Linked DNA regions of Homo sapiens: region 2 is linked to region 1. A link means that fine-mapping ties the variant in region 1 to the expression of a gene that starts in the linked region. Tissue or cell type: sun-exposed skin. Region 1 holds a variant in brackets; the other region holds the start of a gene. All regions are shown on one strand. Distances are between the middles of the regions.

Region 1 (2,710 bases):
AAAATCTCAGTTAATCAAAAAATACTGTTTTTGTGTGCATTCTTTGATTTTTTTTTTTTAAAGATGGAGTTTTGCTCTTGTTGCCCAGGCTGGAGTGCAGTGGCGCAATCTCAGCTCACTGCAATCTCCACCTCCCAGATTCAAGCAATTCTCCTGCCTTAGCCTCCCGAGTAGCTGGGATTACGGGCGCCTGCCAACACACCCAGCTAATTTTTGTATTTTTAGTAGAAACAGGGTTTCACCATGTTGGCCAGGCTGGTCTCGAACTCCTGACCTCAGGTGATCCACCTGCCTCAGCCTCCCAAAGTATTGGGATTACAGGCGTGAGCCACCACAGCCATCCCATTCTTTGATTTTTTAATGAGGTTGAAATCTGCATTCATTGGCAATTTGTATTTTTGTGTGAATTTTCTGCTCATGGCCTTTGTTCATTTTTCTTTCAGAATGTTATTTTTGGTCTGGCATGGTGGCTCACACATGTAACCCGAGCACTTTGGGAGGCTGAATTGCATGAGCCCAGGAGTTGTAGACCAGTGTGGGCAACATGGCAAAACCCCATCTCTACAAAAAATTAGCTGGGCATGGTGGCACATGCCTGTAGTCCCGACTACTCAGGAGGCTGAGGCAGGAGGATTGCTTGAGCTTGGGGCATCGAGGCTGCAGTGAGCCAAGATCGCTCTGTTGCATCTCCAGCCTGGGCAACAGAGTGAGACCCTGTCTCAAAAAAAAAAAAAAAAAAAAAAAAAGAAAATTTACATTTTTTTCCAGTCTTTCAATTTTAACTTTATGTTGTTTAATTTATGCACGTTTTTTTCTTCAGGCAGATCTACCAATCTTCTTTTGTGATTTATTCTGACTCTCATTCTTAGGCTTTCCCCAGTTCTATGATCAGATATTTTCCTTCTAATTTTATAGTTTCTTTTTTTTTTTCTTTTAGCTCCATTGTTTAGAAATTTTTTGGCAGGAGGGATGGTATAAAGCTAATCCTTTCTTTCCCCCAAATACCATTTATTGAAAATTTTCTTCTCCATGTAATTTCAAATTTTAAGTGTGAACTGAGCAAATTTCCCACAGGTTTGATAGTAACAGTCATCAAGAATCGGATATTATTTAAATTGTACACACTTCCGTTTTAATTTGTTGATGTTTATCTACCACTGAGTAAGAAAGTTTTTTTTTTCCTTTTATAAGCATATAAGCACGAGCCTTGCTCTACCAGGAATATTTTTAAACAGCTTTATTGAGTTGTAATTCATATATTATACAAGTCATTGCCTGGGTGCAGTGGATCACACCTGTAATCCCAGCACTTCGGGAGACCAAGGCAGGCAGATCACTTGAGGTCAGGAGTTTGAGACCAGCCCGGCCAACATGGTGAAACCCCGTCTCTATTAAAAATACAAAACTTGGCCAGGTGTGGAGGGGCACACCTGTAATCCCAGCTACTGGGAGACTGAGGCAGGAGAATCGCTTGA[A/G]TCCGGGAGGTGGAGGTTGCAGTGAGCTGAGATCGCGCCATTGCACTCCAGCCTGGGTGACAAGAGCGAAACTCAGTCTCAAAAAAAAAGAAGTGTATAATTCATTGATTTTTAGTATATTCACAGAGTTGTACAACCATCATATTAAGAATTTTGAATATTTCTCTCGGATATGAACAGACACTTCTCAAAAGAAGACATTTATGTGGCAAACAAACATATGAAAGAAAAGCTCATCATCCCTGGTCATTAGAGAAATGCAAATCAAAACCACAATGAGATACCATCTCACGCCAGTTAGAATGGCGATCATTAAAAAGTCAGGAAACAACAGATGCTGGAGAGGATGTGGAGAAATAGTACCGCTTTTACACTGTTGGTGGGAGTGTTAATTAGTTCAACCATTGTGGAAGACAGTGTGGCGATTCCTCAAGGATCTAGAACCAGAAATACCGTTTGACCCAGCAATCCCATTACCATGTATATACCCAAACGATTATAAATCATTCTACTATAAAGACACATGCACACGTATGTTTATTGCAGCACTATTCACAATAGCAAAGACTTGGAACCAACCCAAATGCCCATCAATGATAGACTGGATAAAGAAAATGTGGCACATATACACCATGGAATACTGTGCAGCTATAAAAAATGCTGAGTTCATGTCCTTTGCAGGGACATGGATGAAGCTGGAAACCATCATTCTCAGCGAACTAACACAGGAACAGAAAATCAAACACTGCATGTTCTCACTCATAAGTGGGAGTTGAACAATGAGAACACATGGACACAGGGAGGGGAACACCACACACCGGGGCCTGTCAGGAGTTAGGGGGCTAGGGGAGGGATAGCATTAGGAGAAATGCCTAATGTAAATGACGGGTTAATGGGCGCAGCAAACCACCATGGCATGTGTATACCTATGTAACAAACCTGCACGTTCTGCACATGTATCCTAGAACCTAAAGCATAATAAAAAAAAAAAAAAGTTAGTACAAAATTTAAATTCTGTATTAACACAGGAAGAGAGGAAATGCTCATCTGGAACTCTTCTAAGTGATCATTTAGAAATTGTTATGCTTTTATATTTTATGTTTTTTTTATTGTTTTTGGATAAGTTTCATATGGTTTTGTTTTTATTCCCCAAATAACTGCTGAGTTTTCCTGATTATTTTCCCAACTTATAACTATTGTGACACAAAATATAATTATTGGTGAGAATGAATATT
Region 2 (2,500 bases), 300 kb after region 1:
CAGAGTATCTATGGCGAAAGGTGTGGTGGTGAATGGACCCAAAACGGAGCTTCTGAATTGCCCACGAATGCCCACGGATTCCCTGTTAACATTTTAGCGCCCACTCAAGGGTCGGCCGTCCAGGTCTGGGAGTCAGTAAGGCACAATAATGCCTGCTAGGGAGGGAGCCAGCCCTCATCTCAGCGGATTCCTGGGAACGTCAGAGCTCGGGAACATTCCTGAACACCCGAACCGCACCTGGCCCAGGCACTGGGGCGGGGCTTAGGCGGGTCCCAGCGAGGCGATGCGTCCCCTCGGCCCCGCTGCGTCCTTCGCCCGTTTTTCCCCACGTCAGTGCCACCGCCTCCTCTGTGCGGAACTCGCACCTGGCCTGCCTGCGTTCCCACGCCCCACCGAAGGGACGCCGCGTTTCTCTCCCTTCCAAGGGACCCTTTTCCTTCCCCTCCAACAGCCCCCCGGGAAAACTCATTCCAGATTGCCTCGATGCCCCAGGGCCACCTGCCATCACCCTGGTCAGGCGTTTGGCCCCGGGCCTGCCCTGGTCTCCATCCCCAGCCCGTCCTCCACCTCTTGTCGCCCCCTCCCGCTCAGCCCCCTTCTCCTCCTTCTCCACGTGCCCCTGCACTCCCACGCCCCTCCCCCAAGAAGCCCCTCTCCTCCGGTCTCGAGGAGTCTCGCGGCACTTCCCGGGGCGTCAGCCCAGCCGCTGCGGGTGGGTGGCAGCCGCGCGGAGAGGGGTGCCTCTGGCGCGGGCGGTGAGGAGGGCGCCCAAGCCCCTCAGCCGCAGGGACGCCCCCGGCGCCTGCCCCGACGCGGCCCCGGCCCCGGCCCCGCCCCTCTCCGGCCCCGCCCCCGCCCGGCGGCCGCGCGTCCCCGGCAGGCGGAGCTGCAGGAGCCTCGCGGCAGCGCTGAGGAGGAGGGGAGAGCGGGCGGCGCGGCCGCGGCTGCCGGGCGCTGGGCTGGGCGGCGCTGTTTTTTTTTTTTTTTTTTTTTTTTTTTTTTTTTTTTTTTTTTTTTTTTTCGCAATTTCCACTCGCGGGGAGCAGGAAACCCGGCGCAGCCGGGCGCATTGGGCCGCGATGCAACAGCAGCAGCAGGAGTCGCCCCGGGGCAGCAGCGGCAGCAGCAGCAGAGGCAGCAGCGGGCGGCGCTGAGCCGCCGCCGCCGCCACTGAGGAAGAAGCCGGCCCAGCCGCCGCCGCGTCCGGACCCTCGCGCCTGGATCCCAGCGCCCCGATCCCGGCGCCCCAACCCCCACGCCCGCCTCCGCCAACTTTCACGCTGCCTCGGCGGCCCGGCCCGGCTCGACGCCAATGGGTGAGTGGGGGCCGCCCGCGTCCGGGCGTCCACTTCAGCCTTGAGGGCGGCGCGCCAGTCCCAGAACCGCGGAGCCCGGGAGGGCGCCCCGGGGGCAGGGTCCGGACGGGGGACACCGCGGTGGGCGCCCTCGCCTGCCTCGCGCACCCCCATTCACTCCCACTTGCGCCCGTGTGCCCGCCGAGCCCGCGCGCGGCGCCGACGGGAACCCGCGGGGGCCTGAGCAGACGATCACGGGGGCTGGCCCCGGGCGGCTCGGGCTGAGGGATGCAGGGGGTGTGGTTGGTTTTTCGGGTGGGCGGGGAGAGTTTTGTCTTGGCCATTTTTGCACCCGAGCGCGCCCTCCTCTGCGCTGCGGACACGGGCACCCGGACCTGGTGGGCTCCGGCCCTGCGCGGGGCTGCTGGTGTCTTCCTGGTCCTGTCTCGGGGGAAGCTGGAACCTCGGGGTCTTGGAGGGGGCTGGGTTGCCTTTGCTGGGGGTTGACAGGGGTTGGGGGGTGGGGCGGGAAACGCCCCAGTTCCTGGTCTGGCTCGCAGTCCCGGGGTCCAGAGCACCTGACGCTCCTCTCCTTGCGCCCCCCTTCCTCCCGGCCCCGACCCTTTCGCTGCTGCCTTCCTCCAGCCTGGCGAGCTCTCTGCTCCGTGATGCTAAAAGGCCACTTCCCATACTGTCCTTTAAGTCTTCAGGGTCTGGGACCTGGAAATGGTGATCCGGTCTTTGATTTACTGAGTAAACATCAGTTCGAAGTAGCCAACTAACCTTTGAACCCCCTGGGTCCCATTTGATTTAGACCCCGGAGCATTGGAACCACCTTGCTGCCCAGAGAAGCTGCCACTTTATTGGCAAGGCACTTATGATTACTTGGGCTATTAAATGTTTGGTCTACCCAGGTAATGTTCTTGCTGACAGCCAGCTTCTGTTTTTCAGCCTCTGGCAGATTATTTTTGGATGTTCCTAGGCCAGGCATAGGAAGGCTGCAGATAATAATAAATCATAATAAAGTGAGACCTTTCTGTGTTCAGGTAATAGGATTCCAGTACACTAGTCAGGATGTTCAGAAAGCCTGAAGGATTGGAAAAGAGGAGGTTTAACCCAGTCCGTTGTTGACAGGCAAAGTTAAAATCCCATTTGTGGTCATTTGCCAAAAAAGGTTTTCCTTTTCTAAGTAGTGGTGATCTGTT

Which allele goes with the higher level. Alleles are on the strand shown, and positions count from the first base shown. SD is a standard deviation of normalised expression in the study named.
As copies of G replace A in region 1, the expression in sun-exposed skin of the gene that starts at base 1,023 in region 2 goes up (moderate effect, 0.71 SD a copy in GTEx).

What was found. PIP is the estimated chance that this variant, and not a neighbour inherited with it, causes the effect.
Region 2: it holds the start of SH3KBP1, and the variant in region 1 is fine-mapped to the expression of SH3KBP1 in sun-exposed skin (GTEx, PIP above 0.99).

Annotation. Positions count from the first base shown.
Region 1 is chrX:20,190,629-20,193,338 of GRCh38, reverse strand. The region is part of intron 7 of RPS6KA3 (ribosomal protein S6 kinase A3); the gene reads left to right. Among named protein-coding and RNA genes, the nearest start is that of EIF1AX, 50 kb to the right of the region's middle. The variant A/G (reference allele first, on the strand shown) is at 1,476.
Region 2 is chrX:19,886,123-19,888,622 of GRCh38, reverse strand. It overlaps SH3KBP1 (SH3 domain containing kinase binding protein 1), which reads left to right and starts at 1,023. Exons shown (of 18, transcript NM_031892.3): 1 at 1,023-1,316. The coding sequence starts at 1,313. RefSeq lists silencers at 572-871, 932-1,001, 1,482-1,621.